Regions from separate parts of the Homo sapiens genome. Here region 2 is linked to region 1. The links come from fine-mapping of genetic effects on gene expression. A gene starts in region 1. The other region holds a variant in brackets. All regions are shown on one strand. Distances are from middle to middle.

Region 1 (12,779 bases):
TAAGTTGTCAACTTGTTGGCATCTGAAGTACCAACATTGCCATGGCCAGTGAGTCACAAATTGGGAAAAGGATGTATCAGCTACGACCAAGGTGGCGTTCTAATCAAGGTTGGGAAGGGTGGGGATCATTGCAGGGAGTGGGTGTTCCCTCTTCCCAATTACCTTTTAACTTTTCTCTTTTAAGAGTTTCAGCAAGGTCTCCCAGTGTTGGTATTTCTTTGAAGAATTCTATTAGTTTGCCCAAACCGGCATCACCTGGGAACTTTTCCTCCATCAAGTCAGCAATCTGAATTTTGTCATACTCTTCTTTCATTTTTGGATTAAGTTTTAAATCGTTACTCAGTAAGGACTTAACAATTCTAAAATGATAATCATTGATGACCTCTAATCCTTTCAGTAGAACAATTTTCTTGTAGTTATTTGCCATCTCTAAAGATATAAGTGAGCCTGCAAGAGAAAAATGGTATATAGTGTTACACATGTATACAGAGAATTTAAAAGAAGATGTATGCCTATGTGAATAAGTGGCCCATAAGAAAGAGTTGTTCATTGTGCCAGTTTTCAAAGGGAATTCTTCCAGTTTTTCTCCATTCAGTATGATATTGGCTGTGGGTTTGTCATAGATAGCTCTTATTATTTTGAGATACGTCCCATCAATACCTAATTTATTGAGAGTTTTTAGCATGAAGGGTTGTTGAATTTTGTCAAAGGCCTTTTCTGCATCTATTGAGATAATAATTTGGTTTTTGTCTTTGGTTCTGTTTATATGCTGGATTACGTTTATTGATTTTTGTATGTTGAACCAGCCTTGCATCCCAGGGATGAAGCCCACTTGATCATGGTGGATAAGCTTTTTGATGTGTTGCTGGATTTGGTTTGCCAGTATTCTATTGAGCATCAATGTTCATCAAGGATATTGGTCTAAAATTCTCTTTTTTTTGTTGTGTCTCTGCCAAGCTTTGGTATCAGGATGATGAAGCTGGAAACCATCATTCTCAGCAAACTATCGCAAGGACAAAAAACCAAACACCGCATGTTCTTACTCATAGGTGGGAATTGAACAATGAGAACACATGGACACAGGACGGGGAACATCGCACACTGGGGACTGTTGTGGGGTGGGGGGAGGGGGGAGGGATAGCATTAGGTGATATACCTAATGCTAAATGATGAGTTAATGGGTGCAGCACACCAACATGGCACATGTATACATATGTAACAAACCTGCACGTTATGCACATGTACCCTAAAACTTAAAGTATAATAATAATAATAATAAAAGAAAGAGTTGTCCATGAATATGTGTGATAAAGAAGGACTTAATGACCAAATGAGTTACTGTAGAAATTGAGTGAAGAACTTTTGCTTTAGGAATGTCCAAGTAATTCATCCCATTGAATGAGGATAGTTGAATTGGGTCCAGGTGTTAGAGGGAGGTCTGTGAACAAGCAATTGTCTCAGTGTTTAGAGTATGGGCTGTGGAGTGTCAAAGTGCTTGGTTGCTCTTCCCATCCTTTACTGGGGCTGGAGCCTATCCCCCAAAACCTGCCTGTTGTTTCTTAAATCTTCCCACACCCACCACTATGACTGGAGTGGCCTAGGTGTAAATGGGCTGCAGCCTCCCACCTTATATGAATAACTTTCTGCCGCAGCACTACAGTTTCATGCTGGGGCGCCGACCCTATTCTCCTTAACTCTTCTCTTGTCAGCTCTCATCAGTATCCTCTTCCTTGGTGTTGGACCCTGCCATATTTGTCCTCTGTGCCCATAAAACTATCACTTTCCTGAACATCTACATTTTCTCTATTGCAGGAACACAGGATTTATTGGCTGGAATATTTCAATAGTTGCTTGATTTTTCTTTTAGGCTTGATTTGTCTAATTCATTTTCATTTCACAGATCCACATTTCTCTCTATAAACCACATTTTTATCCCACTGAAATCTTTCAATATTTGCCCATTTTCTTTTCAATACATTCCTTGCTTCTTGTATTGTTTCAGAAGACTTTGAATAATCTGCATTCTTTTTTTTTTTTTTTTTAACCTCTGGCACTTGTGTGTTCCTTATATCTTACATTTCAGAAGTATAAAACATTTTCATGCTTCATGACTTTGCTAATTCTCTTCTCATTGCCTGGAAAGCCATTCCCACATTCCTCTATCTGACTGCCTCTCCTACAACATTTTAGACTCAACTGAGAGTTTGTCTTCTAGAAATTTTCAGAGTGCCCTTATGGACAGAGTGTTACTCCTCTGGACCTCTTTAGCACCAGTGCACTTTAGCACATGATGACACTCAAAGCATGCTATGGATTCCTGTTTCCTTTTTAAATTAACATAGCGCTTTGGGAGGCTGAGGGAGGCAGTTCATGTGAGGTCAAGGGTTCAAGACCAGCCTGGCCAACATGGTGAAACCCCGTCTCTACTAAAAATACAAAAGTTAGCCAGGCATGGTGGTGGGTGCCTGTAATCCATAATCCAAGCTACTCAGGAGGCTGAGGCAACAGAATTGCTTGAACCCGGGAGGTGCAGTCTGCAGTGAGCAGATATCATGCCACTGCACTCCAGCCTGAGTGACAAGAGCAAAACTCCACCTCGATAAAAATAAATACAAAAACAAATATTTTAATTATAGAAAACATGTATTTGTGTACCTCTTGTGTAATTTAGATATTTAAATTCCTGGGGCTGTTAATTGCTTTCTTCTTGAGAGAACATGAGTGTCCTCAGATTGATAAGCATAGAATGAAGGAAAAAATATATACAAAGACATATAGTGAAACTGAAGAACATAAAAAACAAATAAATACTCCATAAGCCTCCGAGAATGAAGGCTTTAGATCACCTGCAAAGATCCAAAAATTAGATTGAAACTGATTCTCAACAACAAATCTACTTGAAAGAGGAGAATGGAATCATTTTTATATAATGCTGGCCCAAAGTCCCATATAAATTGCTAAACAAAAAGTTTAGAAATGGGAAGTTTTGATTTGTTTTGTGAGTATGACAACACGATTTATTTGCAAAATGAAACCAGATGTGAGCTTACAGAAGGCTATGTATGATTTTTATTTATTCCACTTAAACACAAATATTCATATGTTTTGATGCTGAAATATTAGTGCTTTTGCTTTTGTAGTAATGACACTGATAACACTGGGGTTTCTAGAAAAATGTGCATTAAGTAATCTTTATAAACCTCCAAGTTCTGATTTTCAAAACATACCGAGCCCCCCAGGTACAAAAGAAATGCTCTCATCTTGTCTTGAAGGAAAAAATAATTTTAAAACTAGAATTTCAATCTAAACAAAGTGATATTTAAACATAAGATCCTCAAAAACTATTCTCTGAACCTGAAGGCCTCAGTAGTTTTTCCAGACAAAGATGCACACAGAAACATTTTTGGAAGTACTTTTCAATAGAAAATTAAAAAAAAATTTTAAAAAGCTGCAGGCCAAAAGACAAGTAAGAATGAAAAACGAACTTGATTATGTGTGCCTATGACTTAAAAAGAAAGCCCTGATCAAAGAAAAGAGAAACAGAAAGTATACCAACATGGTGGAGGGAGGGAAGAAAAAGAATATGAGTTTACTAATGTAATTGTCTTAAAGGGTGAGATGGAAATATAAGTTTTAAAAACAGACAAGTAGGAGAATATAGAAGTGTTATAAATTGAAGTGAAGATAGCAGAAGCAGGCCAAAATATGTTAATTATTAGCCTATACATAAAGAGGTTAACTAGTTAAATGACAACTTTTATCAAATTTGATTTAAAATTTCTATATGTATGTTGTCAGTAAAAGATCACTGAAAGATGAAAAAAAATTTAAATTATCATGCAAGGAGAAACTAGAAGAAAGCCAGCTTATCTATGCTAGAATCATTTTTAAAAGATCTTAAGACAAAGAGTATTATCAGATACCACATGGTAAAAGGTTGAATTCCTGGGAAGATACAATAATTTAAATTATAGATTTATCTAATAATAATAAATGTATATTATTTTTCATTATTGTATAGTCCTTCATGATAATATAATGTTATATAATATATTTATCTTCATATACACACATATGTACACGGTGCCACAAATATATATATTTATATGTGTATGTTTATGTTTGGAAACATGTATGCATGATCACATACACACATAATATACATTATACAACTATGCATGTGAGCATATCTATATATTATATATATGAATTTGAGAGGAGTACAAGAAAATACCGTCTTATAATAGGAGGTTCTATATTATATCTTCCAATACTAAATGAACAAGGTAAAAAAACATTTTTACAAATTTGAGCAACATAATTGATAGCAATATTTATCTAACATATATAAATCCTGAAATCAACATTTAAAATCTCATATTCTAGTCAAGTACACTGAGATATTGCACCAGGCTATACAGAAAGTCTTCTAAAAATTCTGAACTTTGACAATATAAATCTATTTCAAATTGACTTCCATGCCTCTCCCCTATACATTGCCACTAGAAAAATAAAACATCATTAACTTTCAGGAGGGCAGGAAGTAATCTTAAAATGAATAAAAAACTGCCTTTCACATCTGGTATAGAATGATGCTAATGTAAAAGTTAAACATACTTATGAAAATATTGACACATTTGAATTATTTGAATTATTTGAATAATTGTGTTTGCAAAATGGATACATTTTCTACTATGTGTTTGCACTTGTAGAATAATATTATTTACAAAATGTTCTCACATATGTTTTTGTGTGAGAACATGTTTTGTAAAATTGAGATACCGTAAAATACAGCTGTATGTCTAGATGTGTTTTTTACTTAATATTATTTCCTGATACTTTGTGCACATCATTATCTTGTCTTATTTTATCTTCTACTTTCATTTTAGGTTCAGAGGGTACATGTGCAGGCTTGTTAAATGAGTAAACTGTGTGTCGCTGAGGCTTGTTGTCTGGTGATCCCATCACCAAGGTAGCGACATAGTACCAGATAGATAGCCTTCCAACCCACATACTGCTCCCACCTTTCCTCTCAAGCAGTCCCCAGCGTCTACCGTTCCCATCTTGTGCCCATATGGATTCAATGTTTAACTTCCACTTATAAGTGAGAACATGCAGTATTTGGTATTCCTGTGTTAGTTCACTTAGGGTAATGTTCTCTAGCCGTATCCATGTTATGCATATACAGCGTGGAATACTATGCATCCATAAAAAAGAATGAAATCATTATCTTGTCTTTTGCCCAGACCCCAATGGCCACCAAGCTTTCTAACCTCAGAGAATATATACTCAGAGAATTTGTTTTAAAATCTGCAATGGTCAAAATGCATATTCCTTCATTCATGCCCCAGTTGTAGAATAAAGGATATCTACTATCTTTGAAGTAAGTAAAGAATTGGAAGTATTAACTGCAGTTTTCACTTTTCTGAATATAGTTGATACCAGCCCTACTGCCCTCACCCCACTGCCCTGAAGAACCAATATCGATTTTTCCCTTGTGATTTTGTGGCTTTCAAGGAAGCATCTAGATCTTTTCTATAAAAAATACCCACAGTACTCACCTTACTGGGAATTTCTTCAACAGTAGTCCAGATCTTGAGATCTTCAGAAATGTAGGAAATGAGGATTGTTTTGAATAGGGAAATCAGTCAGTAAAGCTCTCAGAAACTGAAATACAGGATGTTATAATCTCCTGAAATGCTAAGAAAATGAAGTATTTTCAAAGACAACAAGGGAAAATGGCCCTTCTTAGAGTCACTTGACTAGTGCTGGCTTCCTCATACTCTGCTTTGCCCTGGGGAGAGAGAAGTTGTGAAACAACGTGCAGACTCCTCCCACCCATATTTTTTGCTTTCCATCCTGTTAGAGAAAATGAACAGTTTCTTTCCTGTAGGTATCTTAATCAAAGTAAAATTTGTATCAAAGTTATATTTAAAATTTTTTTTCTTACAAATGTTGATATCTGAATGGAGTTCCAATCTTAGAACTTTCTTAACCAGCAGACTTACATGTGGGACATTAGGGACCTCTATTCCGATGAATGATTGTCAAATATGAGAGAAGCAAGGTGGTTTCTTCTCCCTCCTTTCCTGTGCGGTTGCAGGGGGAGATCTTGGTAGGAGCATCTATTGCTACCAGTACTTTACTGCATCTCCTGCATGGGAGAATGTCTGCTATGAAATAGCAGTTGGTTTAAATACTACCTGAAGCATTCACCCAGTTATTAATAGTTGACAAACCTAGGGCTTTCCAGATCAGAAAGTTATTATGAATATATAAATCCTTTCTCAAATATATATAAAGGAGTTTAACACTAGCTGTCCTCTTGACTATGACTAGGTTATTTTACCTCAATGATTACATTCATGATTCCTCAGGTTTCCTTCATTATTCATGGAAAAACACAAGTGGATAGTGGGCTCACAACATGACAGCATCGAAGCCTTGAAAATCCTGGAAAATGCACTGAACTTCTGGTAGACCGAGAGTCCTGTTAAACCCTTTGCTCAGCAGTATTTTTTCTGTTAAGGGCAGTGGGTGTCCTTCAGAGTACTAAAACCCCAAGATGTCAAATAAACGACACCAACTGGCAGATGATGTTGTGTTAACCCAGCAGCAGATCTGCAAGCAGGATGTGGCCATGAGTGGAAAATGGGGCCCGAAATACAGCTGTAGGGGAGAAAACAAGTTTTTTTTAAATTTCCCTTTTTAGGTTATTAGTTGACACTCTCCTGAAAACAAACGTCAAATTAACAAAAGAAAAACAAGCAGTTTATTAATGTGTGCTCTACTCATCACAAGGGATAGGCCTCAGTTCAAAAGTATTTCTCTCTCCAGGCTGTGGCTTAGAAACCTTGTTTAAATAGTATTTCAATAAAGAGCCATACGTTCTATATAGTGAAAAGCAAAGGAGAAAGCAGTTCCAGTCATTTAAAAGGTGGGAAAACGTGGGAAGGTAGTAAAATCTGTTCCCAGATTCCTCAGGTTCCTGGTGGCGCCTTCTCCGGGCTGAAAAGCAAGTGCTTTCTCCAGTAAATACGGATTTATGTCCTGCCATCAGGCAAATAGTGCCTGAGGCAGCATGTTCCCCTCCATTTTCTGTCTTTAACTTAACAGTCCTAAGTATTTTGAGAAGTATTTTTGGTTTCCTTCACAAATAATACAAATGATCTGAGGCCATCTACAGAACAGAAGAAAGCTGATCGCCTTAGTACAAACTAGGGTCATGGAGAGGATAGTTGATGTCTGGATTTGGAGCCATATGATAATTTTATCAAAGCAAAAGTAAGTTAAGAAAAAGCAAGGAGGATCTGGAAGGATGGCCACAAAAATACCTTCGAGTGTTCATGGTTTTCTTTTATAGGTTTACGTTGCTGTTAATGTAGAGACACTAAGTTGGTCTTAAGATAGTAGGTAGAGAGGGATATTAGGAAGGTCAGGTTACCCCAATTCAAAGGTCAGAGAGTAGAGGAAACTTGGTAGAAATTACCATGTTTCAGGACATTTTTGTTTCCCCTTTTTGGTAATCATTTCATGTAGAGTAATGCCTTTGGTTAGGACTCCAGCATACAACATACAAATTACTGTCACCAATGAAGACAATTCAGAACATTGCTCCATAATCCATACTGTGCAGATAAAATTGTAATAGATGAAGCAAAGAAATGCTTTAAAAATGTGCATTTGTGCTGATTCTGAAGCAGTGGGCAATAATTTGCAATTTGTGCCATCACACAGAAAGCTCACTAATAGAACATACGAGAGCTCCTGATAAGGGGGTAAAAGTCTTGGATGGACCTTCATGACTTTTTATCATCTGAAGTACTAATTCCGATGCTCATTCAAAGTCCTCAGGAAAAGTTCCCACCCGATTAATGTTCTAACCAAGATGTTAGTAAATTACTGCCTGTGGGACAATACTAACACACCATCCACTTTTGTAAGTAAAATTTTATTGAAACACAACTGTGATTACTCACTTATGCATTGTCAATATCTACTTCATGGTGCAATGAAGAGTTGACTAGCAACAGAGTCCATCCGGCTGCAGAGTGTAAAGATTTTGCTGTATGGCTTATTATAGAAAACGTTTGTCAATCTGTACCCAGTCGTCAGTCTAGGAGACGGCAGAAAGCCTCTAAGGAGAAAAGCAAAAATAATTACTTATTTTTATTTTTGCTTTGTTAAATCAAAAGCAATGTTAAATCAAGTTTAGCCTAAAGCTGCCTTCTTACATATTCTAAGTTCAGCCTAAAGGTTTCTCATACAGCGTGAATGATGGCCTAAATGGAAGTGTAAACAGACTGTAGTATATGCTTGTGTCAATCACCAAGTTTTGGCCAATCAAATGTGGCCAACTTGTTCAAACCGCGTTCAAATAAGGCAAACTCCGAGCTATAACCAATCCAGCTCTTTATCTCATGTCCATTTTCTGTATCTCACTTTTCTTTTTCTCTTCATAAATCTTCCACTATGTGGCTGTGCTGGAGTCTCTGAGCCTACTCTGGCTTGGGAGGCTGCCTGAATAACATTCACTGCTCAGTTAAACTCTTTTAAATTTAAGTCAGCTGAAGCTTTTCTCTTACACAATCACACCAAGAAACCACGTTTGGGACTTTTAAAGTCCATTGTAAACCCCTGGATAAAGCCTTGTAATAATTATTGTGATCTCAGAGAGGAAAATGGAAATGGAGAGTGTTAAAACCTTTCTCTAATTATCCCTAAGAGTCAGAACAAAACCCATTTGTTGAGAGCCTCAGTTAGCAAGATTGCTTTATGCATTCATGGCCATCAGCCACCTCAATCAGGTGCCTTCTCCTTTTGTCTCTCAAGTAAATAGATTTCTCTTTCTCAAGGAAGAGGGAAAGGTGATTGAGTTTTAAATGTTGAACCAATCTTATATCCCTGAGATAAAACACTTTTAATGATGCATTATAATTTATCATATTGATAAGTATATTGGTAAGTATAATTTTTCAATATTTTAAAAGTGTTTTTGCATTTATTTTCATGTGAGAGTTGGTTTTTGTTTAGTTTCTGTCATATTGATAAGTATATTGGTAAGTATAATTTTTCAATATTTTAAAAGTGTTTTTGCATTTATTTTCATGTGAGAGTTGGTTTTTGTTTAGTTTCTGTCATATTGATAAGTATATTGGTAAGTATAATTTTTCAATATTTTAAAAGTGTTTTTGCATTTATTTTCATGTGAGAGTTGGTTTTTGTTTAGTTTCTGTGTAATATCTTTAATTTTGGTGTGACAGCAAACTGGCATTTCTAAAACAGATTGTATAGACATGGTAAACTTTTATCCTCAAATGTCTGATGGAATTCATAAAGTGTCTATTCCCAAAACTTTCACTACGGAAAGATTTTTGTTACAACTTCTCTTTCTCTAATAGATATAAAAATATTTAGTTGTTTTATTTCCTTACAAGACAGTTTTGGTAAGTTGTGTTTCACAGGATTTTTTTTGTAATACATTTTTGTTTTACAGGAATTACGTAAGTAAACTTATTTGCATAATATTTTTCATAATTTTTTATTACCATTTTAATATCTGTAGTGCCATCCCTTTACATTCCTGATACTGGCCATTTATATTATCCTCCCTTATTTTTCTTGATTACTCTTGGTAGACTCTCTGAGGAGGATGCTCAGGGAAGTTCAAAGGCAAGAGGAGAGACAAAAAGGACAGTAAAGGATTCTGAAGCCTTTGGCACCGACATTTAGGACAAAAAGTAAATAACGTTTTAACAACTAGCCAGACTAACAAAAAATCTCATACTAAAGGTCTGTTTATTTCAGTTCCTATTACCTGATCATATATGTCTTCCTTTTGACAAAAAAAAAAAAGAAAGAAAGAAAAAGCAAGTTATGCTAAAGACAAGGAAAAACAGAGTCTCAAGAGTCAAAAGAACCATTAGAAGCAGACTCAGATATGATCCTCATGTGGAAATTTGCTGACAGGGAATCTAAAATTACTATGATTAATGTGTTAAGTGCTCTAATGGAAAAAGTAGACTGCATACAAGAACAGATGGGTAACATAAGCAGAGAGAAGAAAACACTAAGAGATAAATCAAACAAAAATGTATGAAGTGAAACAATGGTAACAGAAATTGAAAATAATCAATAGACCAGACATAATCTAGAAAAGAATGTTACCTTGAAGATAGATCAATAGAAATTTCCAAAACTAAATGCAAAGGAAAAAAATATTAAACCCTCCAGCCCACAGAATATCTAATAACTGTGGTGGGATATCTTAAGATGTAGCAAATACATAATCGAAAAGCCAGAAAGAAAGAAAGAAGGAAGCATAAAAAGTACTGAAATGGTCTCTTTGTCTGGTGTGACACCTGAGGTTCTTGGTCACATGGCCACAGAGATCAAGGATGCAGACACACACAAAGTGTGAGGTTTAGAGCTGAATTTTAATAGACAAAAGAAGGAGAATAGCTCTCTGCTACAGAGAGGATTCCTGGAAAAATGGTTGCTGATCTGCTGTGAAATGCAGAGATTTTTATAGATGAGCTAGTGGGGAGACGGTGTCTGATCTATGCAGGGTGTGAAAAACTGGTTAGGACCAGCTGTGCCATCTGCATAGGGCCCAAATCTCTGGCTGCCCCTACCCCCATCTTTTATTATGCAGGTGGGTAGCTACTCCATGTTGCTTATTTCTTTCTTACTGTACACATGCTAACAAAAAAGGAAAGGTGGAACCCCATGGTGAACACGCCTGGTACCAGGTAGCCTTTTCTATTGGTGCAGCTGCCAGCATCCCCCCATGCAGGCTCCCAGCTTCCTTCTCTATGTTTGCAGTTCGATCTTTCAGGCTGCTCTTTATTAGAAAATAAGTGATTTTTGGGCTTCTTTTTGTTAGAAGGGAAGTTCTGCCAAGGACTCTTTTGCCCTCACTATCTGCCTAAGATAATTTCTTTCTATCTCCTGTATCAGTATTTGGAGAAATAATTGCCAAGAAATATTTAAAACCAACCGGAGCCAAAACCTCAGATGCAGGAAGCTCAGATATTATCCACTGTGACAAATGCTGAAAAACAAATCATATCTGGACATTTTATATTTCAACTGCAGAAAAGTCAAAGAAAAATCTTGATCAAAGTCAGGAAAGTAAAATATTGTATTATATATAGAGAAACAATTCCAAGAATCACTGTGGAGTTTTTGTCAGAAACATTGGAGGCAATAAGAGAAAGAAGAATATAAAATGAAATGCTTAAATGTATTGAAAGAAAAAACATGGCAATCTAGAATTCTATATCTGGCAAAATTATTATTCAAAAGTGAAGGAGATCAGATCTACATGAAGAAAAGAAAACCATCAGAGAAGGCATAAATGCAAGTCAATTAAATTTTAAAAATTTTGATTCTGAATTGATTTAAAAGATAACTTTCTTTAAAGTAATAATAGTAATGATGTATTCAGTCATTATAGTATATAAATACAAGAAATGAGCCAGGGAAAAAATGGAGGAATGGGGATTTTCTGTTATATGGTATGTGTTGTATACATAAAGCAATATAGTAATATTTAAAGATAGATTTAAGTTAGTTAAAGCTATATTTTTGAAACTCTAAGCCAAACAATAAAAAACTTTTTAAAAAGTATAATTCATATGTTGAGAAGAAAAGAAAAAAATCATTGCTCAGTTAAAACCATAAAAGGCAGGAAAAGAGGGGCAAAGAAACAAAGAACAAATGTAACAAATAGAACGTAGTTGCAAAACCGTAGATATTAATCTAACTATAACAACTATAGAAGAGCTCTGATTTGTAGCAATTGCCGATTCCTGTGGTATAAATATCACCTCCTCTGCTGCCTTTATAATGCAAAATATTTGACAACCAGCAGAAAAATTCCTTAATACTTAATAATCTGTTTTTTTCTAGTTTGGGAGGCTGAGGCGGGTGGATCACGAGGTCAGGAGTTCGATATCAGCCTGGCCAACATGGTGAAACCCCATCTCTAGTAAAAATACAAAAATTAGCCAGGTGTGGTGACAGGCACCTGTAGTCCCAGCTACTCAGGAGGCTGAGGCAGGAAAATCACTTGAACCTGGGAGGTGGAGGTTGCAGTGAGCTGAGGTTGCACCACTGCATTGCAGCCTGGGCAACAGAGCAAGACTCCATCTCAAAATAATAATAATAATAAAGATCATCATCATCATCATCATCATCATCTGTTTTTTCTAATTTCTAGCTGAGGAATGAGTGTGCTGCCTTCAATTCATCCTCTTATTGCATAAAATCTCCCAATTATGTACCTGTTTTTTTCACAGTGAAACTTCCATTCCTCCCTTTATGAAAAAAGGTAGCTTACTGTTTTACCATTCTGACCTCATTTTCCATACCCTTCTGCATATACCAAAGTTTCAGTTGTGTGGAACTATTTGTGTTATTTCACACTTTTGAGTATCTTGAGAAGCGTGAAAAGTTATTTCACACTTTTGAGAGAGAGAGATCTGGTGCCTTTTCTTTAAAGGAGACCAATCACATCCTGAAGACCTTGATGTCCTAAATACTCAATAGTGTGAAATAGTTCTCAATGCTATTGATACTACTGATACTCAATAGTATCAATAATTTAAATGTCTTTATCTTGCTAAGAACAATGATTCCTACCGCATATTGATTTCTCATGATGCACTAGAAGACTGTAAAATATAATGTATGTGCTTTATGTCACTAGATTTTCAAATCAACCCTATGAGGCAGAGTTTCCCCATTTTAGAGAAGACTATTGTCTTAGTCGACTT
Region 2 (13,938 bases), 44 kb before region 1:
TTTCTGAGAAAGGTCTAATATCTAGACTCTATAAGGAACTTAAATCAACAAGCAAAAACCAAACAGTTTCATTAAAAATGGTTAAAAGCCATGAATAGATCTTTCTCAAAAGAGGATCCATGCAACTAACAAGCATGTGAAAAATGCTCAATATCACTAATCATTAGAGAAATGCAAATCAAAACTACAGGGAGATACCAGCTCACACCAGTCAGAATAGCTGCTATTAAAAAGTCAAAAAATAACTGATGCTGGTGAGGTTGTAGAGAAAAGGGAACATTTATACATTGAGGGTGGAAATGCCAATTATATGCCATATTTTTTTATATGGTGAAAGGAAGAGGTCCAGTTTTAATTTTCTTCATACAGCTAGCCAGTGATCCTGATGCTATTTGCTGAATACTTCAGCGACTGTTGAAAACAGTTTGGAGATTTCTCAAATAACTTAAAACAGAACTAACATTTGACCCAGCAATCCCATTACTGGTATATACCCAAAGGAATATAAATTGTTCTACTAAAAGATACGTGCTTGTATATGGTTTCTTTGTTTGTTTGTTTATTTATTTCTTTATCTTTTGATTCAGAGTCTCGCTCTTGTCCCCCAGGCTGGAGTGCAATGGCACAATCTTGGCTTACTGCAACCACTGCCTCCCAGGTTCAAGCGATTCTCCTGCCCCAGGCTCCCAAGTAGCTGAGACTACAGGTGCCTGCCACCACAAAAGGCTAAGTTTTTGTATTTTTAGTAGAGACAGGGTTTCACCATGTTGGCCAGGCTGGTCTCGAACTCCTGACCTCAGATGATCCACCCACCTCAGCCTCCCAAAGTACATGTGTATGCTTATTGCACTTTTCATAATAGTAATGACATGGAATCAATCTAGATGGCCATTAACAGTGGTTTAGATAAAGCAAATGTGGTACGTATACAACATGGTACACTACGGAGCCATAAAAATACAAAATCATTACTGGGGGAACCTGACTCCAATATTTCAATGTAGGTTCTTTCTATTTTCCACAAGTGTCAGCCAGCTGAGAAATAAAGACAGTACAAAGAGGAATTTTACAGCTGGGCCACGAGGGGTGACTTCATGTATCGGTAGGACCATGATGCCCGCCTGAGTCTCAGACCAGCAAGTTTTTGTTAAGGGTTTCAAAAGGGAGGGGGTGTAAGAACAGGGAGTAGGTACAAAGATAACATGCTTTAAAGGGCAAAAAGCAGAACCACTAGTAAAGGTCTAACAAAGATCACATACTTCTGAGGGAACGGGACAAAGGGTAAAAGCAGAACCACTGATAAGCGTCTATGTTCAGCGGTGCATGTATTGTCTTGATAAACATCTTAAACAACAGAACACAGGGTTCGAGAGCAGAGAACCGGTCTGACCACAAATTTACCAGGGCAGAGTTTCCCCAACCCTAGTAAGCCTGAGGGTTCTGCAGGAGACCAGGGTGTATCTCAGTCCTTATCTCAACTGCACAAGTCAGACATTCCCAGAGCAGCCATTTATAGATCTCTCCCCAGGAACGCATTCCATTCCCAGGGTATTAATATTAACATTCCTTGCTAGGAAAAGAATTTAGCAATATCTTTCCTACTTGCACATCCATTTATAGGCTGTCTGCAAGAAGAAAAATACGGCTCGTTTTGCCCAAACCCGCAGGCAGTCAGAGCTTACGGTTGTCTTCCCTAAAAATCGCTACTATTCTGTTCTTTTTCAAGATGCACTGATTTCATATTTTTCAAACTCACATGTTTTACAATCAATCTGTACAGTTAACAATTATCACAGTGGTCCTGAGATAAGATACATCCTCAGCTTATGAAGATAACAGGATTAAAAGATTTAAGTAAGGACAAGCATAAGAAATTATAAAAGTATTATTTGGGAACTGATAAATGTCCACAAAATCTTCACAATTTATGTTCCTCTGCTGTGGCTCCAGCCAGTCCCTCCATTTGGGGTCCCTGACTTCCTGCAACAAATCATGTCCTTTGCAGGAACATAGATGCAGCTGCAAGGCATTATCTGAAGCAAAATAACACAGGAACAGAAAACCAAATACCACTTGTTCTTACTAATAAGTAGGAGCTAAACATTGAGTACACAAGGACACAAAAAGAAGCACAATAGACACTGGTGGTTTACTTAAAGGTCGAGGGTGGGAGGAGGGTGAAGACTGAAAAACTACCTATCAGGTACTGTGCTTACTACCTAGGTGACAAAATCATTTGTATGCCAATCCCAGCAACATGTAATGTATTGATGTAACAAACCTGCACATGTAGCCCCTAAATCTAAAATAAAAGTTGGAAGAAAAAAATATGAATACCATATGACCCAAGATTTATTCTTCTTGGTATTTATGCAAAATAATTAAAATAGGAGTTGAAGAGATATTACTAGCGCTCCCATGTACATTACAGTATTATTCAAAATAGACAAGATGTGAAAACTACCTAAATGTCCCAGTTTTGAATGAATAGATAAGAAAATGTGGTGTGTATATATAATGGAATGTTATTCTTTCTTAATGAAGGAAATTCTGCAATAGTTACAGCATGAATGAAATTCTGCAATAGTTACAGCATGAATAAAACTTGAGGGCATTATGCTAAGTGTAATAAGCCACTCATAAGAGAATAAATACTGCATGAGTCCACTTATGTAGAGTATCTATAATAGCCAAACTTACAGGAGCAGAAAATAAAATGGTGGTTAGCTGGGGCTGGAGGAAGGGGGAAATGGAAGCTGCTATTCGATGGGTATACAACTTCAGATATGCCAGATGAATAAGCTCTGTAGATCTGCTGCACAACACTGTGCTTATAGTTCCTAATACTGTATTGTAAACTTGAAATTTGTTAAGTGGTTGATCTCACGTGCTCTTATCATCATAAAATTCTAATACATGCCTCACTATGTGGTTTTAGAGAAATAATGTTGCTAACAGTGTTGGATTTGCCTCTTCCAATCATAATCATTTGCTAATACACTAGAGATCCTCTCAGAGCTATTTCACTGCCTCTTGCAGAGAACCACTTGGTACAAACTGATCTCTAAGATGTCTATGAGGGTAGGTTAGATCTCTGTGAGCTGTTCTGTCTTTCTCTTTGGTTCACACATTTCAAAGTTAGGGGAAGCCCCAGATTCTCACCTACTTGTGGTCCCAAGTAGGAGCTCTGATGTGTAGTAAGATATAAAAATATAAGATAGAGTGGGGTCAAGGCATTAGAGGTTGACGCTGTTTAAATTAAAACACAGTGAACAGGCTAATTCTTTCGGGTGGAAGATAATTTCTTTCCTATCTCATTTACAGACATGACTGTCCTTAGAAGTTAAAATTTCAGGGAGAAATCAGCAAACACATTAGACAAAGCACCTAAATGACCCATTCTCTAACTGTTAATTACCATCATCTACATACTCAAGAGTGGTCCATTATACCTAGTTTATGTAAAGTAATATGAATATTATGTATTTGAGTAGCTCAGAATACCAATATCATTTGCATATAAAGCAGTTATTTTCTCAGTGTCCATAAGTCAAATTTGAATTTGGAGGATGTTTTAGCAGTTTGTGACATCTTCTCAAGATGAAATCTGTTTCCTAACTAGCTGAATGATGTGATTTTGACCACTTCACTCAATCTCTGAATTTCAGTTTTTTCACTGCACATGAGGAAAAAATTCGGTGGCTTCAAAACATCCTTCAAAATTTGATTTTCCCAAGTGAACCAAATTATCATATATATATATATATATATATATATGTATAGACACACACACACATATGAATATTAGCAATGATATTTGGCAATAAAGAATGTCTGAAAAAACTTATTCATGGTATCTGAATCTATCATACTTTCTTACCTTTATGTCTGATAAAAGACATAATCGGAAAGGTGCAGGGCAAGAGGAAAAAAAAACTACATTTATTCCTTGGATTGTTGGTCCAAACCATAAAGGCAGAACTTTAATGCCTCTTTTCCTTAGATTAATTGGGCATATATAGCTTCAGATCACCACAGTTCTCTGATGAGTACAGAAGATTGCTATTTTGCATTTATCTACTTTTTCATAATTTTAAGGGTGAGAGTGAGGCTCTTTTCAGCTTTCTCCATCTTAGGTGGAATCCGTCTTATTCATTGTTTAATTTGCATCTTATCCCTGTTCTCCTAACATTAGCACACCTAACCCAAGCCAGAACAACAGACCTGGATGTTAAATCAAGGACTATATAAGACCACCTAAGTGTCACTTCGAAAGTAAATTTGCTTTCTGTGCCCTTTTTTCTTTATATATGGAGAGTAAAAAGGAGAAAACTGTCAACCTTCTAGAGCTACGGTGAAGATTAAATGACACAAAATAATTACACCAGGTGCCAAATATATGATCCATAAATACATTGTAAGTTTTAGATACTGACTTTCTGCCATTCTACTCTAAAATAAATTAATTATTCTTCAGTTTGCCTAAGTTAACTGTCTGCCTGGGCAACTTTCTGATGGATTCATATAGTGGAATGTGAGAAGAGGGAATATGGTGGGAGAGCTCCTGAGGAGCTGTTGGTGCTGAAGGAAATGTATAGAACCAGATAATTTACATCAAACAGGGCCAGGAATTCCTCTAACATAGGCAAGTGCCTTCATGCACATCACCAGAAAGTGCCTGGTTTGGCAAGAAAATTACCCAATTATTCCCCCTCCAGGAGTCCAATTCTGAAAAGATATCTCTAGTTTTGGCTAGAGCAACTCCTTCCCAGGACACAGTGCTTGCAACAGAATCACAGGCTGGATTTCACCCCTACCTGCCCCTTGGTCTGGATTCTTTGGGCAGGGCACAGTCAGTTCAGTCTTAACCAGGGCCTATTCCTTAAAGATCCCATCCAAACTATAAATCTGTGTGCCCCACCCTGACTTGCAGGCCACAGTTTATTTGCTTTTACATAACTCACAGATAGATTAAAGAAACTCCTATGGAAGCACTCTTTAAGAAAAAAAAGTTTATTTTTTTTCAAATTATGAAAATTCTGAATGCAAAATATGATATGAAGAAAATGCATAAAAGTAAAACTAATGAAATAAAATGCACCCTTAATACTCCATTTCCTAGAATTAATAGCTGGTATATATATATATATATATATATATATATATATATATATATATATATAGTATTTCAACCAGATATATATACATATATTATTTTCTGTGCTTTGATCTTATCTTCATAAACATCATTACCAATGGCATCAGGTTTTTAGGTGGAGGACTTCAGGCAAAATTTCCACACTTGAGTAAAGATTGAACAGTAGTTATTTGATATCCTTGTCCTTGGTGACCTTGAAGCATAAAGAGATAAAAATAAACCCGTTGAGATGCAGGGAGTCATACATTTCTTTCTTCAATCACACTGCCTCTCCTCCCTGTGAGCCACATCTCTTCTTCTATTTCCATCTGAAGCACTCTTTTCTCATTCTCATCTATCTCCTTTAATGAATCCTGTCCTTGGAGTCACATCTTCCCCCTCTGTTGGGACCATGAAATGCGATATTCACTCCTACCCAGCATGAGCCCACGTGAAAGGGCAGGAGATGTCAGGGAACAATAAGATAGAGAAAGGAGCTGGTGTGTCCAACGACAAGGGCTAAAGGGAAACTTCTCATTGGGCAGAAAGGTAGGAGGAGCGTACAAAATGTATTCCTGGTGCAACTGCTGTCAAGGAAGGCTTGGGACTTTTGACTAATGGCCCTGAGAACTGGAGCAATCAGAAAGCCTTTGCATTTTTGTGTGTCTGAATGTGTTAGCCTTTATTCTGATCTTTTTGCATTCCAATATTAGCCTTTATTTGTTCCAAGAATCCCACATGAATATATGTGACAAACAGCATAAACTTTGTCATGTAGATCCAACCATCTCTGTCTACACAGAGATGTTTCTCACAAAAGACAGCTACCTTTGTGTTCTGATTTGCTTAGGGACATCCTTGGTAATTTAGGACTGTTATGAGGTATGTTGGCCACCCTCAAATTTAACTCCCTCTTCTGTTCATTGTGTACCACAAATAATTGAATGAGCTAATATGTGAAACAATTGGATTATAAAGGATTAATGAAGATAATTATTGAAAAACCCTTAGAATAGTCTGAGTCATTCTG[C/T]ATACTCAGTAAATGAGAGACATCATTATTTCCATTCTATTAGGTACTTTTAGTCACATCCACTGTTTTAACAACTATGTCTCTATTGATGTAATTCAGTAAAAGGCCCAGCCAAAATTACCCAAGTTTAAGCTCTATATATCAGATGGATAATTCTTAGATGTCCTGTGGGAATCTCAAACTTAACTTGTCTAGAGCAGAACACGTTTTTTCCCTGGAACATGGTCTTTCTACTGTGCTCATAAGAGGTGTATTGAAGAGTAAATGCAATCATATACATAAAAACATAACTTTCACTTCCAGCTTTACCCAGTAGAAGCTCAGTTAGAAAAATATTGTTTTCATTGTTATTTAAAGACTATGCAAGTTTTTTATGTCAGCCTGATCCAGAAATGAATTATGATTTATGTTGATCCTCTTGTGGAAAACCCAGATAAAGTTGTAGTGATTGGGAATAAAACTAATAGCTTCGTTTTTTCCCATATAGTAATTCTGAGCCAGTAATATCTCCATTTGTTTTCCCAACCATTCTGGGCTCTTTGATTTAGGAGAGTCATGACAAAAGATGAAAAATAAGAATGGTCTGCTTTTGACTTTAAATCCAAAAGCATAGAAAAATTTATACAAATTAATAATTAATACAAACACAGTATTATTGGGATGATCTATGATATACAAAAGCAAGGACTTCTTTCAGAGCTAGTGAATCACAGAGGAAGTAACAGGATGTATTTTCCAGGCATCCTGTGGAAGTGCTAGATATCAAAGAAGAAATGGCTATATGGGAGGTTAGGTGTAGGAGACATAGGACCCTAGCTGAGATTCCTGGGCTAAGGGAGGTTTAGATGCAGTCAAATAAATCTAACGGCTATAGAAACAGACCATAATGCGTATTTAAAATGGTAGAACCTAGGCAAACTTTGCGTAGTCCCTTCAAAGCCAAAATGCAGGAAAAATAAGTTCTTTTCCAGAATGTTGTCCTGGGATGTTCAATTATGTCTATTAAGTAACAGAAAAGTGGGTCTGAGCTGGTAATGACTACATATGCGTTCCATCCATGGTCACCTAAGCCAAGATGGCTAAAGAGGACGTGCTAGCTTTGACTCTCAAATAAATTACATATAATTTATTGAGGAAAATGTGATTCTCGGGCTTATCAAAAACAACAAAAACATAAACAAACCAAAAAACGACCACAAATTGAGAACTCCTGTATATAGGTAATCTGTCTTCAACTAGTCTGTATGGTGACATGTCTTCAACTAAAAGAGTGGTGACATGATTCTCCTCTTGCCTTTCTCTTTCATCACCTTCCCTCTCACTGTAGATCATAGTCTTCTGTTCCCTAGGTGGAGGTGACTCCACTGGTCATATCATGACCAAAAGCAGGCTGGGATTCAATTGGAACACTTAGATATAAATTCATTAGTTCACCTTTGTCTGATGTTCTCTGGACAAGAAATCTATAAACTGTACTTATTATCAAGTGTGGTTGAAAAACACTTTATTATTAGAATTTTAATAAATGTTCTAAATAAAATAAAGAGAAATGTTCAGGACACCTTGGCATGATGTGTTCTATGGCAGGAGGAGAATATCAGTGCAGTATTTTTCTGAGGAAGGGGGATTTTGGTTGGCCCAGAAATATATTGGGGCAAATGAAGAGATGAGAGTAAGGGATTCTAAAAAAAGGAAGTAGCATATGCCAAGACACTAGCTATGGAAAGAAACAGGGATTTTGAATATCAATCCTAAGTTATGGTCATTAGTCGTAGTGGAAAATTGTGAAAGGAAACTGGAATAGAAGGTACGAACATACTGTTGTATTCATCTCTCCTTGTCTGGATACCTCCTCACATACACCATATTTGCACCAATGAAAAACAGTAATCTTCCTGAAGACAGAAATGATTTCATGAATGCATATTTTGTGAGTATTGAAGGACTTAGAATCCAGTGGCATGTCCAATTATATATTGATAAATGAATGAGAAATGTAGTAAAATAATGAAATAATATATAGTCAGAATTTAAATGAGAATCCCTTTGAAGACTCTGATTACCCCTACAATTATATTTTAGAGGTACAGCAATGCAAATAGAAAGGTGGTACCTTATTTAAGGAACTGCTGGATGGCGGTTGGTGGAAGTGTCAGAAGAAAGAGGAGGGGCCACAGTTGGTGAGGTGATTCTAAAGTTTGCAGGCGATGACTGTGCTCCTGGGTGGGTTTCATCCTTCTGGAGTCATAAATTTGGGTAATTTAGTCTTTCACTTTATGACAGAAAGAACTGGTTTTTTCTGCTTAATATTTTCCTATATAAGTTGGATGTAATACATGTGTGTATATGTGTGTGTGTGTGTGTGTGTGTGTGTGTGTGAAAATCCCTTTTTATAGAATCTTCCCTCTGCTAATCTCTCTGGATGCTGGCATACATTTAGTTTTCTTAACCCACATTTCAGCATACACAGAAACTAGCATATAGTATAAGAGAAAATGGATCTGAGCTGGAAATGATTAGGCATGGGGTCTATTTGAGGCCACTTCTGCCAAGATGACTGCCTGCTTACTGATCCACCAGATAAAATCTGTAGACACTCTTCAGGAAAATATGAACTTTGGGTAACAATAACAAAATAATAAAGAAAAATCCAGTCACATATAGCAAACTCCTGTAAAGAATAAGTCTGTCTTCAACTCATAGGTGTGGGGGAGTCACTGAGGCTGTAGGCTGGGTCAGTGTGGATCTTGGGGCCTGGGTGAAAAACTAGATGAGAGAATAAAGACTTAATACTCCCCTTTTCTTTCTCTAAGTTGACTTCTTGTTCACTGCTGATAGAGGGTGCTGTGGCACAGAGGCAGGTGACTACACAGTCCAACTTACTGGTAAGTAAAAGGCAGCATGGAATAGGATTTCATACACACAGATATAAACTCATTCATGGACCTTTGTTTTTACTTACCTGAGCAGGTAGCATATATAATCTCAATTACTTACAGGGTTGAAAATATACTATAATTACTGTGGTGACAAGTATTATAAAGGAAATAAATGGACATGTGAAGGACACAAAGAGATGATCTGTCTTATTTTTGGATGGGGTTATCAGGAGGTCTTGCTTGAAGACAGTTTTAGGCTGGCCCAAAAATATATAAAGGCCAGTGAAGGAATAGGAGAAAAAGATTCCAGACAAAGGGAGTACCATGTATGAAACAAAAACATGTAGGAAAGAGTAAGAATGTTGAAAATAAACTGTGAGTTATGGTTCTGAAGCAAAAGGGAAATCTGTGAATGAACAATGAAATGTAAGAGAGGAACACACTCTTGTATTTCTTCATCTTTGTGTACTCTCCTCCACTCTTTCTCTATATCTGGATCATAAATCACAATAATGTCTTTAGGTCAGGAATGATTTTATCAATGTATCCCTTGTAAATCATAAAAATCCTAGAATCTAGTAGCATCTCTGATTATATACTTAATAAATGAATGAGAAATATAGTAAAATAAAAAACTATTTAGTCAGAGATTGATTGAAAAGCTCTGTCAAGATACTGATTATCCCTTTAAGTATAATAAAGGGAGGCACAAAGAATGGCAACAAGAAGTTGGTACTTTGGTTAAAGAACTACCAGATGGGGTTTGTGACATTTTCTGTGACATCTGAGGATGGTTCAGAGTTGGAGGTTCTCCGATGACTGAATTTTACCTATGCAGACTATACACTTTGAAAGGATACTATCTTATTGGAGTCATATGTTTGGGTGATTCTGGCATCTGTGTTCTGAAGAAAAGATCGACTTTTCTGATTAATGGTTTCACTATGAGATGAAGCCTGATTATGTATCTGCCTCTATATCTATACGTATCTATATCATCATCTATCTGGTTTGATTTTTTAATTTATTTTTTTCTTTTATTCTTTTTACATTGTCTTCCTTCTTGCATTTTCTCTGGCTAGCAGCATAACTTTAGATATCCTAACCTCTTCACCTGCACATTCACAAATGGCATTTTGGCCTTCGTTTTATTGACTGAAATTCTGTAGGTGTGTGATTGGGTCCTGGCTCTGTTTCTGGTGAAAACTCATCTAGGCTAACTTGGTCAAGCACCTCTGCTGGAGTTATTTTTGTTAAGTAATGCTCCTAAGTTATAAGGGTAGTAAGTTTCAGAACAATGTTAGCCAAATGGATGAAAGCCATTTTCATCAAGCAAATACACAAAGGATTCCTGTAGTTTGCACTTCAGGACCCAGAAAAATCAGTTGTCAGTTGTTTGGGGATACTGATCTTCATTTTGCTATCAGCACTCTCTGAAAGCACAGTTCCAGTCAGGATTCTGTTTATCCAGTGATTTGCATCAGGTATCCAAAATCCTTCAGGATTCCCAACAGCAATCACAACCGTTTCAGATTTCACTAGGGCATTCCCAGAACATGTCTTTATATATATATATATATCTTGTTAATGTAAGGATAATGGGTGTCTGGAAAATCACATGTGATTCTCTCTAAGCACTAAGGAAAGCACTTAAGGACGTTCTACTTCCAATATCAAATCACTCTCTTTACTAAGGAAAATAATTAAGGACATTCTACTTCCAATATCAAATCACTCTCATTCATTTCTATTTGTAGATTTCCATAATATTTTTCTTTTGTCCTTAAGGAGATGGAAGGAAAGTGCTGAAAGATCAGTTTGCTTATGAGGGTTTCCAAGTGAGGACAACAAACCCTAGCCATCTTGTGCACCTCATCCTGTTTTAGAAGCTTGAAGAGTCTGGATTATAAAAACAAATGTAAAATTCAACACTATTTGAAATGCTTATTGATATATTACAGATATTTTAATATCTACTCTCTCTCACTGGAAGAAACATACTCCCTCAACTACAAAAACTTTTTAGTTGACTAAGTTGAATATGAATCTTTCAACTAATACTAATTATCTTTATTAGCTTGGGAGAGATTTCTAACTTCTCTGAACCTCATGATTCTCATATGTGAAATGAGATATAGGTTGTATCTTCATGGATATGCAATAAAGAATATATGCTATACATTTTATAATAAACACAGCTTTACTTCAGAATCCAGTAAATGCTCAATAAGAAGAAATATCATTATTATTTTCATTGTTATAGTATATGCAGTGTTTGTGTGTTTGCTCTATTCACAGATATTTTATGCTTTATGTTGACCCAGTTGTAGAAAATCTCATTGAGGAGGTATGGGTAAAATATTAAATAAGCTAGTCTCTATTCCCTTCTACCAAAGCTAGTAGTCTAATCTCATTGATAAAAGTGAATTGAACAAGTATCTCTTCAAAATAAGTCAAAACTGATAAGATCAGATATTACAGTTATCTTAGTGGAAAGGCCAAGAAGTGATATTGGACGTAGAGGGGATGTGATAATAGACATTGGAGACTCAGAAAGGTGGAAGTGTGGGAGTAGGGTGAGGGATGAGAGATTATCTAATGGGTACAACATACACTATTCAGGTGATGGATACACTAAAAGTCCCAACTTCACCACTGCGCAATTTAACCATGTAACAAATCTGCACTTGTACCCCCTAAATCATTAACAAATATACATAATAAAATATAAACAAAAACATTTTCATTACAGAAGCAGAATTTGGATGCCTAAGATCTTAGCTTTGGTTGAATATTAATTTAAATCATTGCTGATTATTTTCCTCATAGTAATTTCTCCCTAATAGCATCCCTGATCATGACTCATGCCATTCTGTGATCTATGCTTTAGATGAGTCATGACAGATGGTCATGCTTCTGTCTTCTTCGGGGTTTAGATCCCAAAGCATAATGAACCTATATCATACACAAATTTTTGAGTGAACCCTTGATGAGTAAATGGGCAAGGCTTTCCTGCTCACCTGGTGAATCATAGATTGAGTGGTGAGACAACCTTGGAGTGGGTCACCAAAGCAGAAAAGGTCCATGATACATTTAGGTGTAGGTGGCCATGGAGATACATGCCTCTTTCTAAAATTATTGTATTAAGGGAGTTTATGTACAGCAGAATAATTCCTATGAATGTAGAAATGGCTGTATTACATATTTAGACAAAAGAACTTAGAAACTGTCACTCCATTTTGTCTAAGCCATTATGCGTCAGAAAATGGATTGTCTTTAAATGTTTGTCTTTGAAGTAGCAGAGAGTAAATGGATCAGAGCTGATAATGACCAGGAATGGGCTCCATCTAACCACCTGAAGTAAGATGGCAAATAGGTTAGATTGATAGCACTATCCACAAATAGTAATTTTAGAAAGTGTACAGAGAAATATGAATTATTGGAATTCACCAGTCAAAAAGAACAAAAGCAGCAACAAAACAAAATGTAAAAATGAGAACTCCTTACATAGGAGTCCTGTCTTCAACTGGTACACATGTATTAGTGATGCAGAAAGAAGGTTGGTCAGAGTGCAATATGGTAATGGGTAAGATACTAGATTGGAAGATAGTGACTCAGTTTTCCTTTTACCTTAGCTTCAAGTTGCCTGCCCATTTACTGAAGATATAGGCATCTGATTCATAGGCCTTAACATGGCAGTGAAAGAGAAAGAACGAAATAGTGAGTCACAGTTACCTAATTTCTCATGCGAAGCCTTGCAGAACCTGAATTATGGAAACAAACTCAAACCATAACGATGTCTGACTTTAAATATATAGAAAAATATTTCAGAAATTTTAACATCTACATTCTGACTCTGGAAGCAATATATGACCATGAAATACTTAAGTTTTAGAGTTCATTAAGGCTGGATTTGAATGTTGACTGTAAGACCAAAAATTATTTTTTTAACTTTTATTTTAGGTTCAGAGGTACATGTGCAGGTTTGTTACATAGGTAAACTGCATGTCACAGGGGTTTGGTGGACAGATTATTTCATCACCCAGGTATTAAGCTTGATACCCACTAAGAATTGTTTTTTCATCCTCTCCCTCTTCCCATCCTCCATCTTCAAGTAGGCGCCAGTGTCTGTTGTTCTCCTCTTTGGGTCCGTGTGTTCTCTCATTGTTTAGCTCTGTTTATAAGAATGGCATCCAGCTCCATTCATGTTGGTGCAAAGGACATGATCTTATTGTTTTTTGTGGCTGTGTAGTATTCCATGGTGTGCATGTGCCACACTTTCTTTATCCAGTCTAACGTCAATGGACATTTAGGGTGATTCCATGTCTTTGCTATTGTGAATAGTGGTGCAATGAACATATGCATGCATGTGTCTTTGTGGTAGAATAATTTATATTCCTTTGGGCATATGCCCAGTACTAGGATTGCTGGGTCAAATGGGAGTTCTGTTCTAAGTTCTTTGAGGAATTGTCACACTGCTTTCCACAATGGCTGAACTAATTAACACTCCCACTGGCAGTATATAAGTGTTCCCTTTTCTCTGCAAGCTCACCAGTATCTGTTATTTTTTGACTTTTTAATAACAGTCATTCTGATTGGTGTGAGATGTTACCTCATTGTGGTTTTGATTTGCATTTCTCTAATAATTAGTGATGTTGAGCATTTTTTCATGTTTGTTGGCCATGTGTATGTTTTCTATTGAGAAGGGTCTGTTCACATCCTTTGCCCACTTTTTAATGGGGTGGCTCATTTTTTTCTTGTAAATTGGTTTACATTCTTTATAGATTCTGGATAACAGATCTTTGTTGGATGCAAAGTTTGCAATTTTTTTTTTCTCATTCTGTAGATAGTTTGATTACTTTGTTGGTAATTTCTTTTGCTGTGCAGAAGTT

What was found.
Region 2: its variant is fine-mapped to the expression of PYHIN1 in whole blood (TOPMed, PIP above 0.99). The same link has a PIP of 0.9 or more in blood mononuclear cells.

Annotation. Positions count from the first base shown.
Region 1 is chr1:158,924,559-158,937,337 of GRCh38, reverse strand. PYHIN1 (pyrin and HIN domain family member 1) reads right to left here and starts at 5,786. Exons shown (of 9, transcript NM_152501.5): 1 at 5,562-5,786; 2 at 163-447. The coding sequence starts at 427.
Region 2 is chr1:158,968,114-158,982,051 of GRCh38, reverse strand. PYHIN1 (pyrin and HIN domain family member 1) reads right to left here. Exons shown (of 9, transcript NM_152501.5): 8 at 8,281-8,405; 9 at 4,993-5,351. The coding sequence ends at 8,286. Among named protein-coding and RNA genes, the nearest start is that of PYDC5, 28 kb to the left of the region's middle. The variant C/T (reference allele first, on the strand shown) is at 6,168.